Homo sapiens: one gene and its partners. The protein of the gene in region 1 purifies or fractionates together with the protein of each later gene. This does not show direct contact. Each region holds a gene or a part of one and is shown on either strand. Other genes may lie near its edges.

The links. The genes of interacting proteins can lie anywhere in the genome.
Region 2: the proteins of PLBD1 (region 1) and ANKS1A purify together in Homo sapiens (affinity purification with mass spectrometry; one large-scale study listed by BioGRID and IntAct). This does not show direct contact.
Region 3: the proteins of PLBD1 (region 1) and PDXDC1 purify together in Homo sapiens (affinity purification with mass spectrometry; one large-scale study listed by BioGRID and IntAct). This does not show direct contact.
Region 4: the proteins of PLBD1 (region 1) and ANKLE2 purify together in Homo sapiens (affinity purification with mass spectrometry; one large-scale study listed by BioGRID and IntAct). This does not show direct contact.

What each region holds. Positions count from the first base shown.
Region 1 is NC_000012.12:14,512,384-14,515,883, reverse strand, and holds part of PLBD1 (phospholipase B-like 1 precursor), read left to right. Parts: intron 1-3,500. UniProt on the Homo sapiens protein: In view of the small size of the putative binding pocket, it has been proposed that it may act as an amidase or a peptidase.
Region 2 is NC_000006.12:35,011,255-35,014,754, reverse strand, and holds part of ANKS1A (ankyrin repeat and SAM domain-containing protein 1A), read right to left. Parts: intron 1-3,500. UniProt on the Homo sapiens protein: Regulator of different signaling pathways. Regulates EPHA8 receptor tyrosine kinase signaling to control cell migration and neurite retraction.
Region 3 is NC_000016.10:15,027,026-15,030,525, reverse strand, and holds part of PDXDC1 (pyridoxal-dependent decarboxylase domain-containing protein 1), read right to left. Parts: intron 1,649-3,500; coding exon 1,560-1,648; coding exon of another isoform or gene 1,494-1,559; exon of another isoform or gene 721-1,493; intron 576-720; coding exon 470-575; intron 1-469.
Region 4 is NC_000012.12:132,751,833-132,755,332, forward strand, and holds part of ANKLE2 (ankyrin repeat and LEM domain-containing protein 2), read right to left. Parts: intron 3,302-3,500; coding exon 2,843-3,301; intron 1-2,842. UniProt on the Homo sapiens protein: Involved in mitotic nuclear envelope reassembly by promoting dephosphorylation of BAF/BANF1 during mitotic exit.

The DNA.
Region 1 (3,500 bases):
GATGGGGTTTCACCATGTTGGTCAGGCTGGTCTCAAACTCCTGACCTCAAATGATTCACCACCCACCTCGGTCTCCCAAAGTGCTGGGATTACAGGCATGAGCCAGCTTGGCCTTTTTAAATATTAAGTGCATGTACTTGAAAGTAGGTACACATGAAGATAAAAGAATAGGCTCCAGGAAAATTTAAGTCAAGTCTTCATAATCTATAAAATTGCCTATTTAATAAATATATGTTGTAAACATTTTTAATGTTCTGTAATTACTGTTATTAATGTCATGTTACCTCTTTGATCTAGGTACTTTGGTCATAAAGCTGAAGTATATAAAAACAATCTATATTTAGTACAGACCAAAATTCATGTCCTTTGCTTTTAAAAGGTAGAACCAAGAAAAAAAAAGCAATAGCAGAATACGGGCACGTATTCTAAAGAATTATAAATGGATTTTGCAGCACTTAATTTCTGTTTTTTTTTTAAGTACCTTTCTTTGATTCTTTGTCTCCTCATTGGTACCATCCCAGAACACTGATGTCTTCTGCCAGATCAGACCTGTCTTGATCATCTTCCCCACCTAAATCAGGATGTGTCCTCCCTTCTACCTTTCCAGAAATCCCACCTTAGTTTTCATACTTTTCTTGATTAACTGGTCATAAGATGATTTCCCTCAACTCCACCCTGTCTCAACATGCAACTCCCCATGAGTCAATCTTCATAATTGTTTCTAATGTGTTTGTTCCATGGTGTGTGTTGAGTAACTGTTGTTGCCATTTGCATGACTACATAGTGGTTACTGTTTATTTCTGCAGTTTGGTGTTTTTTTTAAGTCTTGAAATAGGATTTATTAACCGGAAGTGTTTCTTTTTATTTCTTAATTAAATTCAGTGAGAAGCTTATCATGAAATGTTATTCTTAGGCTGGCATTCATAAAACACTGGAGTGTTTCATTTTCTCCTGATCTCAATCTGCCTTCCAAAGCTGCTAATGACAGATGAGAGCAAGATTATAATTTTAGTTAGGGTGTGGTGGCTCATACCTGTAATCCCAGCACTTTGGGAGGCCAAGGCTGGAGGATCCCTTGAACTCTAAAGCTCGACACCAGCCTGGGCAACACAGGGAGACCCTGTCTCAAAAAAAAAAAAAATTTAAAAAGATTATAATTGTATGTAGTCAAAGAAATGTGTTTCTTTTCAAAGGCAATGTGTCAGAACTTTGTCCCATCTCTGGGCCTTTTCTTTATTATCTTAAACTCTAAACTATAGAATTAGCCTCCTCAACTATAGTTTTTGCAGGCCAGTTCACTCTCCTTGCTCTAGAACTCTGGATAGCCTATATATTTCCATCATCCTGTCTCTTTCATAAAGAATCTTGCCTTTAAATGAAAGACTACTCCTTAAACATTAGTACTTGTAATATTCAATCACCTACACATATTAAAGAACGCCTGCCCTCTTGTGTCCAGGGAGACTGCTACAGCAAGTATTGAATTAGCAAACTTGTCATTCCGGAAATACAGCATTCTACCCTACAGGGATTATCTACCAGGGAGCTTTCTCAAGGCTGCCAAGTATGGTTGTACAGTTTGAAAAATGATCCCAGCCCAAGACACGAATGCAATCCATTTTACACTCTGTCAAGCCATATATCCTTGCCCAGGTCATGTCTTTCTAGAGAGGTGACCCATTAAAATTTCATTCAAGAGTACTGTTAAACCTTGTACCACTTGGAATGTGCAACTTTCTCTAATTTACACAAAGCTCTCTATAGCTTAATGGCAGCCGTGTAGAGGCTCATTAAGAGTTAGTTGGGGCCGGGCACGGTGGCTCACGCCTGTAATCCCAGCACTTTGGGAGGCCGAGGCGGGCAGATCATGAGGTCAGGAGATCGAGACCATCCTGGCTAACATGGCGAAACCCCGTCTCTACTAAAAATGCAAAAAATTAGCAGGGCGTGGTGGCGGGCGCCTGTAGTCCCAGCTACTTGGGAGGCTGAGGCAGGAGAATGGCGTGAACCCAGGAGGTGGAATTTGCAGTGTGCCAAGATCACGCCACTGCACTCCAGCCTGGGCGACAGAGCGAGACTCCGTCTCAAAAAAAAAAAAAAAAACTAAGAGTTAGTTGGACAGTCCTCTCATCGTGTAACTTTCCTACTCAAGAAATTTCAAGAAATTAAAATCAGATTGTTAGAGCTGAATAGCTGAATGACATTAGTCCCAGGTTATCAGAAGAAGGAAATAAGGAAGAGAGAGGCAAAATAAGAACTGTCAAATTCATTAGAGGCAAGCAGGAAACTAAAATGCAGGTCTTCTGACTCCCAGTCCATGCTCTTACCTCCGGTTTCAGGTGACCCGTTTCTTTGACCCCACCTTACTTATTCCATACTAGGCTAGAATAGATGTGTAATAGCATGCATAGGGCTGGTGGGGTGATTTGAGGCAGTATGTGGACAAACATTTTTTGCACATTAGTAGAAATGTATTTGTTTTAATGTATTTCTTTGGGAAAAAACAAAAACATTAAGTCCATAGTTTCTGAGACATTATGATATATGACAAGGGTAAGTTAAGTTTGAAAAGTGAGTTAATTTGAAGAAAGATATTAAGTAGTGCATATGTTAATAGCTTGATTTAGCCATTGACAATGTATACATATATCAGAATATCATTTTGTATGCCAAAATATATACAATGTTTCCTTGTCAGATATCAAAATATCCTTTCTTTTGTATAACATAAATATATATAATTTTTACTTGTCAGTTAAAAAATAACAAAAATATTAACTAAATGATAGTTCAGATAGTACTCAGATATGGCAAAAATGATAAAAGTGGTAAAAAATCATGGTAGAAATTTGAGACCATCTCAGTCCATTCTGACTACTATGACAAAACACCTCAGACTAGGTAATTTATAAGCTATAGAAATGTTATTGCTCACAGTTCTGGAGGCTGGGAAGCCCAAGATGAAGGGACTGGAAGACTCAGTGTCTAATGAGGGTCTGTTTCTCGTAGACAGTGCCTTCTCTCTGTGACCTCACATAGTGGAAGGGGCTAGCTAGCTCCCTCGGGACTGTTTTGTAAGGGCCTTAAAACCCTTCAGCAGGATGCACCGAAGGAACTTACCACTCTGGCCCCTTCTAACCCTACCACTGAGGTCCTTTTCTGTTTAACACTGACAGTTGTTCCATTACTGTTACTGATGACAGTATATCCTCTCTTTTTATTACAGCTGTGCCTGATATTCTATCCTTTCCATACTCATCCCAGTATAAACCACAAAATAGGTCTTCAGAAAAGACTGTGGCTTCACTGATTTTCCTGTGTTGCCTCCAACATTTATAAAAAAGCATTGACCAAGAGTGTCAATGCCCTAGTTTCAAAACCATCTTTACTTTTCTAAATGTAGATGTTTTTCCATTTATAAAAATTATGTAGACTTAGCCGGGTGTGGTGGCCCACACCTGTAATCCCAGCACTTTAGAGGCTAAGGTGGGTGAATCACT
Region 2 (3,500 bases), on another chromosome or scaffold:
GTAAAAGGAGCACAGGCTTCTACTGCTTTGTATCAACTTCCAGCTTCATATTTAACAACTGGGAGCTAAGGCACCAACAATGAAAGGAAACACCACAGCTCAGAACTGGGGGCCAGCCTGGCTCACACTGCCTGGGTGGACCTCAGAACCCAGGCCACAGAGAATGTTCTAACTGCTGCTGTGGGAGCCAACAATGCAGGCCCTGTGAAACAGCCACCCATTCATGCTAGCTATCAATGATGAAAGAGAGACAGATGCCAAGGGCTCAATACCAGACACATGCCAAGGGGAAGGAAGTGGGTAGAAGGAAAGAATGGAAACTTACGGAGGAAGGAAATATGTGGAGGAAGAATCTCTGAGGGTCATAATCCTATTAGAGAAACCACAATCCACCAATATTTTGTGGAATATAAGAAATGATGGAAAGAAATTCTTATAATCATATGACTTAGCCAGGCAATTCCTAAGAAAGACACTTTGGTATCTGAAAAGCTTGCCGAGATCCAAGACCCTAAGGCTGGTGTTCTTGTTCCCATTAAAAACTACATCCAAGGCCAAGATGAGTTTTTTTTGGCAGATCAATGGGTGGGAAAAGAATTACTCAATGGTTTCTTCCTTCTGCAAAGTAAGGATAATATAAGGTCTCTTAGGGACAAGGTGCTAACAATAGAATATACTGATCAAGAAGCAGTTTTTAAGCAAATCACTTCTTTGTGCAATTCTGGGATCTTAATTGGGGGATTGTTGCGGTAATTAAATTATACGTGTAATGCATTAAGAACCGTGTCTAGCACATGCCACGCTCTCAATAGATGTTGAAATTGTTATTATCCTCCACACAGGGTCCGTTACAACACACTTTGCTCACAGATGAGACCAACTACTTCTCCGTTCCTCACAGGTCTGTCACAAGGATCATCAAAGATAAGGTACATGAAAGTACTCTGTAAGATATAAAGCACTTCACAAGCATTCATTACCTTCACCATCCTTATAACTCTGAACAGCAGAAGGAAGGGACAGAAGGTAATATGGTGAGAGGGCTGAAGTGAGAAACTCTGAGACAGGCCCCAGAACTGTCACTGTAACCACTCATCCCATGGACAAATGTATGAAGTGTCTGTCCTCAGGAGGCACCCAGGTGGATATGAGGATAAAGAGGCCGGGTGTGGTGGCTCACGCCTGTAATCCCAACGCTTTGGGAGCCTGTGGTGGGAGGATTGCTTGAGCTCAGGAGTTCAAGATCAGCTTGGGCAACATGGCGAGACCTCATCTCTATAAACAATTTAAAAATTAGCTGGGTGTGGTGGTGCACACCTGCTGTCCCAGCTACTTGGGAGGTTGAGATGGGAGGATAATTTGAGTCCAGGAATTCAAGGCTGCAGTGAGCTGTGATCATGCCACTGCACTCCAGCCTGGGAGACACAGCGAGACCTTGTCTCACCAAAAAATAAAAAATAAAAAAAATAAAGACACCAAGTCTGCCTCAATAGATGCTTTAAGACAGGCATAAATCATATGCTTGGCAGACAAAAAGGAAAGCCTGATTACTTCGAACCAGAAGGCTTCTCAGAAGAGGTAGCTTTCGAGCTGAGCACTGAAGGAGAAATAAGACCTTGTCAGGCTTACAGAGAAGTAAAAATACATTAGAAAAGGCAGAGAAGGGCCAGGTGTGGCAGTACATGCCTGTAATCCCAGCACTTTGGGAGGCTGAGAGAGGAGGATCACTTGAGCTCAGGAGTTAGAGACCACCCTGGGCAACAAACCTCACGCCCAGGGACTAGTGAAGTTGCAGAAGAGACCCTTAGGCCTTTCTCCTACACTACTTCCCATGTTCCCCGAGCTCTGCCCTCCCCACAGTCTGCCCTTCTAGGAGAGAAACAAGGAGATAGTGGCACACAGGGAGGGAGGCCTGTTTCTTATGCTACCCATACATCGAGGCCAGCTGTTCTACTCAATATGGCACACCAGCATGCTAATTCCCAATCCCATCAACTTGTGATCCTCATTCATTTTCCTTATACCCTGTGAGCTACTGAAGCAAGGGGTCTTCTGTGCTGCATTTTAATTACTACGATGAGCTATGGGATCTCAAGGGCTTTTGAATAATAACACTTCAACATTTACACATTTTCATTCACCTCTGCCCACTTAAATTAAGGCTAAAGAATGCAGCTCATGTGAGGAGTTGCTAATTCAAATCTCCCCTCAGGCCCAGAGAAGAAGGCTGGGGGACCCAGTGTCTCATATTGTTTTGTGTTCTCCGTATCATTAGGATTGGAATCCTCCAGCTGCCTAGTCACTATAGTGAGCATCAAAAACCATGGGTGTGCAGGAGAACTCCCAAGTACATGGCTGCTTTCAGAGGGTCACCAGGCTCTTCCTGGAAGGAAGGTCCTGACCAAGTTATTCAGACACTTGCTGAAGACTGCAATTTGATAAGACAAATAGACTGAGAGTTCATTTTGGTCCACGGCAACCTGAGAAATAGAATAAGAGCTAGACAGGGATTCAAGAAGCCCATGTTTTAGTTCCAGCCCCGTGACTTTTCCTCTCTAGGTCTCTTTCAAAAAATGAATGCCTGGGATGCATTCTCCAGGGCTTTGGGATTTAGGCTAGTTTGAATCTGTGATTAAAGGACCTCTCTATAGTCCCTACCAGTTCTATGATGTTAAGAACATGAATAGCAGAAAGGCTTTTGATGAAATGGTTTTAGCCTCATGGTTAAAAGTACAGGCTTTGGATTCAGTCACACTAGGGTTTAAGTCTCAGCTCCAATACCTAACCTTTTCTTCCTCAGCTCTGAAACAGGGACAAAAATAGCCCCTACCCTGAAGATCTGTCACAAGATATACAATGACATAATCAACATAAAGGAAATCAGCATGGCAGCTGGCCCGTGGGAAGCATTCAGTAAATGATAGCTGCTATCATTATCACCATTTTTCATTTACAGTCATTTCTGAACTCTTAGCTCATCATGCTAACACTGCACAGAGAGGCTGGTTTCCCTTCTCCTGACTCTGCAAAGGAGACTGATTTATTCTGAGTAGCCCTTTTAAAGAGGCAGAATAAAACTCAAATGCCAGGGAAGGCCAGTATTCTTATAAGTTTGGTTTGGGATTACATGTAATAGCACAGTGGAGAATCTTCAGATTAGGAGCCATCTGTACTCACCTTGGGGCCCATAGGTATAGCCCAGCTTTGGGACTTCGGACTGTTTCACATTGACTTGGTCTTGATTACCTCATTACATCTCCCCCTTCTTCTTGAACTCCTAAAGCGTCTGTTCTCTACCTGTCATTGGACCTCTGACCTCTGGCCCCCAAACTTCCCTAGTTTTCAATATACCAGCTTTGCCTGGATCAGCTTCCAACCAGCCACGATTTCTAACCATGCCTAATTTAATAGCATATTTGCTGTCTTTGCTCCCCTTGATCTTCTGCCAGTTCTTGTAGTGGGTATTCATAGCCATTTGCTTTCTCTTCTCCAGTTGCTGG
Region 3 (3,500 bases), on another chromosome or scaffold:
CCCCCAGGCTGGAGTGCAGTGGTGTAATCTCAGCTCACTGCAACCTCGGCCTCCCAGGTTCAAGTGATTCTCCTGCCTCAGCCTCCCAAGTAGCTGGGACTGCAGGTGTGTACCACCATGCCTGGCTAATTTTTTGTATTCTTAGTAGGGGCGGGATTTCACTATGTTGGCCAGGCTGGTCTCGAACTCCTGACCTCAGATGATCTGCCTGCCTTGGCCTCCCAAGGTGCTGGGATTACAGGTGTGAGCCACCATGCCCGGCCAATTCAGGTGACTTCTGAATTCTCATTCTGATTCTGGTAAGTTACATGGGAATGCTAATCTACCTAAATTTAGCCCAAAAGAAAAGAAAATGCCCCTCCAAAAAGAGCTGCTAATAACTCTAGGAGAATGGAGTATCATAAGGGCAAGCTAATCTACCCAGCAGCCCCAGAACAAAAGCAAGGGATGTCCACCAAGCCTGGTTTACCTGCTGCGGTCATCAAAGGGCTGAACCGCAAACACGTGCCCTCAGCTTCCAGATCCATGACTGTGAGGCCGCTTGCAGGCACCAGCTGCTTCAGCTGTTCTCCCAGCTGTGAGGAGGACACAATGAACACCCTCCTGTAACAAGGGACTCAGACGTCTTCAGGACCCACCCTCATCCCCTCGGCCCCAGACCAAAGAGCCTCCTGGAGAGCTGATTCCTGCTCTTTTGACTGTCTGATTACTTAGAGCAGCTTTTTAAAAACAGTAAATTTTATGGTTTTTTCTTATTAATACAAGTTCATTGTAGAAAAATTTAGGAAATACAAGTAAACAAAAAGAAGAAAATAACAATGACCCACAATATATTACTAAGCGACACCCACTGCTGACATGTGGTCTGCCCCCAGCGTCTTTTCTCCTAGTGGCGGGCAGGGAGTTGTAGTTGTTGTCATAAAACATGCTACTTGACACTGCTTAGTAACCTGCATTGATTCATTTCGTTTATGACCAGTTCCTTTCTGCTTGAGACACTCAGCTCTGTGGTCTCTCACAGCTGTGCTGAGCCCCAGCATGGATGTACCAGGACTTATCTGCCAACCCTGCTAGGCTGGGCGTGTCCAGCATTGGCTAGAACTGCTGCTGCCGCCATCCCACACTGTTCACAAGACCCTTCAGACTCAAATCCTAGAGCTGCTATTCAGTGCCCAAAACGCTATCAAAGTGCAGGCCTGGCTCCACACTGCCAGCTGCAGATGCTCGGCAGACTCTGCCTGGGGCTCCCGGCTGTGCTGCCCAGGCTCACCAGAACCCACCGCAGCTGCCCTGCAGCCCACCTTTTGCCTGTTGTCTCACAGCCTTATACAGCAGCAAGGAAAGTGAGGGAGCAATGCCAGAAGGACTTGCCAGAGGTGACCCAGCTCGTGAGGTGGTAACGCAATGGGGAACAGAACTCCAGAGCAGGCCCAGCACTGGCAGGGCGGCTCCTCCTGTGGGCCTCAGTTCCCATACACGAGCACGCGTCACCCTCACCAGCAGGTCGGATGGTGATGGACGGGGACCTGAAAGGAAAGGGGGGTGACTGCCATTCTCACCCAGCGATTCAGCGCGTCACACGAGTGCCTCTCCCGGCCGACTCCTGAAGGTGTCATGTTGGGCACTGGGACGGCTTTAAACACCGGATCTGACACCAAAACACAGAAAGGGAGTCACTCCCAGAAACACGGCTGACCAAAAAAAACACCCTCCAAACCCCACATCATTCCCATCCCAATATTAGCCCCAGGGCACTGACTCGTATTACTGAATTCTCATGTATTATCTGACAGAAGGGCTACATTTCTTTTTCCTCGTGATCTATGTAACACTTGAATACATTCACATAAGACAGAATTATTAATTTCATTTTTGAAAAGGTTTGCTTTCAAGGGATTTCAAGGGGAAACAGCAATTGTTTTAAGTTACTAACTAGTTTACCAAGCACCGTGCGAGGTCTGTGAGTGCCACGATCATCTAACTAGGCCTCACAGTGGGTGCCAACCCGTGCCAGGCACAGAGCCCGACACTTGGGACAGAAGGCAGGTAAGGTTTCTGTCATCTTGGAGCTTACATTTTAGTTGAGGAAACAGACCATAAAGAAAGAAAATCACTCCATGTGGTTGTTAGTGTCACAAGTGAAGCTGGGGGCTCTGATAGAAAATGATGGAGTCCCCTCAGGCACGATAGGCAGGGAAGGCTGAGGATGTGGATACTTAGTGGAGACCGAAATGGTGAGGAGGAGCTGGCACCAGAAGAGAGAAATGTGTGTAAGACAGAGGGAACGCCGAGTGTTAAGCCCTTGCGGTAGGAAAGGGCAGAGTGTTCTGGAGCGCGGAGAAGACTGGTCTGACTGAGGCACAACGAACAAGAGGGAGAGTGGAAGGGGGGAAGGCAGAAGCGAATTCGGGGCAGAGTGTGCAGGCCTCATGGGGCATGGGAGAGCCTGGCCTTTGTTCGACCGAAATGGTAAGATACCCAGGGGCTCTGGGCAGGGAAGTGACACTGATACGGGAGTGCTGGGAAGGGAAGAGCGTGGTCCCTTTAAATGACACAGAAGCGGGGAAGGGAAGTGCTGGGGAGAGAAAGGCGGGTCCCTGGCTAGGACTCTACCCCCACGGACCTAGGTGAGGACAAGCACTCCTGCCTTCCCCCAAATGTTGCATTTCCCAAGACCACGCTGGCCCACCACACCACCATCCTGGGCCTATAAAAACCTGAGACCCTAGTGGGCAGACAGAAGTGGCTGGATGGCCAGAGGAACACATTGGTGGAAAAAGACACAAGCGGCTGGTCATGGAGAGCAGGCCGGCAGAAGAGCACCCCGACAGGCCCCGGCAAGCCAGCAGGCCATCAACCACGGGGACGAGGCGGAGTTTGGCCAGGGCCGCTGAGCGGCCCAACTCCAAGGGAAATCTGTCTCCCTTCTGGCTCCCCCATCAGCGGAGAGCTACTTTCATTCAATAAAACCTTGCACTCATTCTCCAAGCCCACATGTGATCCCATTCTTCCGGTACACCAAGACAAGAACCTGGGATACATTAATCCCTCTGTCCTTGTGATAAGGAAGGGGGTCTAAGTGAGCTAAAACAAGCTGCCTACAGACGGCTAAATTAAAAGAGCACACTGTAACACATGCCCGCTGGAGCCTTAGGAGCTGTAAAACATTCACCCCCAGATGCTGCCATGGGGTCGGAGCCCCACAGCCTGCCCGTCTGTATGCTCTCCTAGAGGTCTGAGCAGCAGCGGGGCACTGAAGAAGCGAGCCACACCCCCATCACATGCCCTGCGAGGGGGACAAGGGAACCTTTCCGGTTTCAACACCATGTGACTTCCACTTATAACCCTCTCTGCCAGGTGGAGAATGGTCTGGAATGGGCTGTGTAGAATGTATGAAAGTCAGAGGTCAGTTGACAGGGGACAATGGCCAACCAGGTAAAAAAAGAGTGGTGCCCTGGACTAGACTGGTGGCACTTGGGTCATTCTTTAAGATACAGATT
Region 4 (3,500 bases), about 120 Mb from region 1:
GTACCCGGCTGGGAATGCCTTTTTAAACATGCCAAGAAACCATTCAAAACAAGATAATCCTGATTATATAAAAATATTAAAGCTCTGTAGTGGAACTATCACAATTAAGTTTTGTATGAGACTATCGTAAATACATAAGATATACACTACTGGCCAGGAGACAAAAATTTATGAACAATGTAACAGACGAATGGTTACTGTCCACTACTGGATAAAAATAGCCATAGTTCGGGCACGGTGGCTCACGCCTGTAATCCCAGCACTTTGGGAGGCTGAGGCAGGTGGATCACCTGACGTTGAGAGTTTGAGACCAGCCTGACCAACGTGGAGAAACCCTGTCTCTACTAAAAATATAAAATTAGCCGGGCGTGGTGGCACACCCCTGTAGTACTAGCTACTCGGGAGGCTGCAGCAGGAAAATCACTGGAACCCAAAAGGCAGAGGTTGGAGTGAGCCAAGATCGCACCACTGCACTCCGGCCTGGCGACAGACCGGGACTCTGTCTCAAATAATAAGTAAATAAATAAATAAATAATAAAAATAAAAACTGCACCATGATCATTTCCCAGTGTTACTTTCTTTTTTTTGAGATGGAATCTAGCTCTGTCGCTCAGGCTGGAATGCAGTGGCACAATCTCAGCTCACTGCAACCTCAGCCTCCTAAGTAGCTGGGACTACAGGTGCCCACCACCACACCCCGCTAATTTTCTGTATTTTTAGTAAAGACGGGGCTTCACCGTGTTAGCCAGGATGGTCTCGATCTCCTGACCTCGTGATCTGCCTGCCTCGGCCTCCCAAAGTGCTGGGATTACAGGCGTGAGCCACCGCGCCCGGCCCCTACGTATTCTTTAAAAAGATCTTACAGAACAATATTCCATTCTATTCATAGTGTTTAACCAATTATGTACTCATAGGCGTCACCACAAATGGTATCACAGTAATAACAATACTCATAACAGTGTGCAATTTCTGGCATCCCAATTAATACTGAGTTCTCATTTCTTTTTTCCAATGCTAAATCTTCTTTAAAATTACAATTCTTGGGCTGGGCACAGTGGCTCACACCTGTAATCTCAGCACTTTGGGAGGCTCAGGTGGGAGGACTGCTTGAAGCCAGGAGTTCAAGACCAGACTAAGCAATAAAGCGAGACCCAGTCTCTTAAAAAAAAAAAAAAAAATTTAATTACCTAGGTGTGGCCAGGCGAGGTGGCTCACGCCTGTAATCCCAGCACTTCGGGAGGCTGAGCCTGGCAGATCACTTGAGCCCAGGAGTTGGGAGACCAGCCTGGGCAACATGGGGAAACATTGTCTCTACCAAGAATACAAAAAAACTGGCGCGTACTGGCACGTGCCCGTGATCCCAGCGATCCCAAGCTACTCCGGAGGCTGAGGTGGGAGGACTCCTTGAGCCTGGTAGGCAGACATTGCAGTGAGTTGTTGAGATTGCATCACTACACCCCAACCTGGGTGAGAGAGAGACCCCAGTCTCAAAAAAAAAAACCACCAAAAACAACCAATTAGCTAGGCGTGCTGGTGTGTGCCTGTAATCTTAGCACTTTGGGAGACCAAGGTGGGTGGATCGCTTGAGGGCAGTTCGAGAGAAGCGTGGGCAACGTGGCGAAACCCCGCCTCTATAAAAAATACAAAAATTGGCTGGGCGTGATGGCTCACACCTGTAATCCCAGAACTTTGGGAGGCCGAGGTGGGCAGATCACGACGTCAGGGGTTCGAGACCAGCTTGGCCAAAATCGCGAAACCTTGTCTCTACTAAAAATACAAAAAATAAAAAATTAGCTGGGTATGGTGGCGGGCGCCTGTAGTTCCCAGCTACTCAGGAGGCTGAGGTTACAGTGAGCTGAGATCGCACCACTGCACTCCAGCCCAGGTGACAGTGCGAGACTCTGTCTCAAAAAAACAAAACAAAACAAAACAAAAAAAAACCATAAAAATTAGCTGTGCGTGGTGGCGTATGCCTGTGGTCCCAGCTACTCAAGCGGCTGAGGTGGGAGGATCACCTGAGCCAGAAAGGTTGAGGCTGCAGTGAGCTGTGACTGCACCACTGCAATGCAGCCTAGGTGGCAGAGTAACACCCTGTTTCAGATGAATGAATAAATTAAAAAAATAAAATGGCCAGGCGCGGTGGCTCAAGCCTGTAATCTCAGCACTTTGGGAGGCCAAGGCAGGTGGATCATGAGGTCAGGAGTTCAAGACCAGCCTGGCCAAGATGGTGAAACCCCGTCTCTACTAAAAATACAAAAAATTAGCCAGGCGCGGTGGCAGGCGCCTGTAATCCCAGCTACTCAGGAGGCTGAGGCAGGAGAATCGCTTAAACTGGGAGGGGAGAGGTTGCAGTGAGCTGAGATCACGCCACTGCACTCTGGCCTGGGCAACAGAGTGAGACTTTGTCTCAAAAAATAAATAAATAAATAAAAACAAAATAAAACCACAAATCTTTGATGCTGAAAAGTATTTATACACTCATTGGCCATTTGCATTCATTAACATAAAAGATGTGCAGGTTACACTGCATTTTAAAAAGGCGGAGATGACTAATCAACAAAGTTCCTAACCAACAGCAGCAGCCAGTTAATATTAATATCTCAGTCCAGCATATCTCATAGAATCCAATTTACCTCACAAATTTTAACAGTTCTCATGTTAAATTCACAAATATTTCAGAAAAGTTCTACATAAAAATGTTAACAATGGTTAACTGGGGTGATGAGATGGAGGGGATTGGATTTTTTCCTTCTTAATCTGTAGTTTTCCATTTTCAGACGTCATCCCGCCCCTCCGCGTATGTGCTATCTGTGTGAGGAAATCCTACACACGGTCCCATTACCATTTCTCGCTGGGACGTCCTCATACACTGGACACACCCCATAGTACAGGGGCGGCTCCTTAGACGCAGTCGCTCCAGCTCTGTAGGTGTCGGTGTCACTAGGGGGCACCGAGCAGGTCTTGGATGTCACAGCTTCCTCCTCTGGAGGATTCAGGCCCACACTGTAACCAAAATCTCTGTCTTCAGAAAAACCAGCCTGATCAGTTGGGTTCCCTTCAGCTGGCTTCAAAATCCTTTGTGGGTCCTGGCTGAGAGCTGTGACACCTGCCTCATGGTGGTAGAAAGAAGACAGCCTTCCTCCTTGCTCCAGTAAAGCCTGAGCCAATTTTTTCTCAAAAATGAACCTTGTAGTTGATGTAATGGGTCCACATTTCAATCCGGCTTTGACGATTTCTTCTCTAAGGTCATCTGGATTCAGAAGTTTCAATCGAGCCAACAGAGCATCCATTGTCATTTCACCTAGGCCCAAGACAAAAAAATCAAAGAGTCACAAAATACTAACACCTGCTGAAGCTGGGTGATGGGTACTAGGGTTCATTATATAATGGCATCAGTTTCTGTTTCTTTCATTAAAAACTTTTTTTCTTGGCTGGACGCGGTGGCTCACGCCTGTAATCCCAGCATTTTGGGAGGCTGAGGCGGGCGGATCATCTGAGGT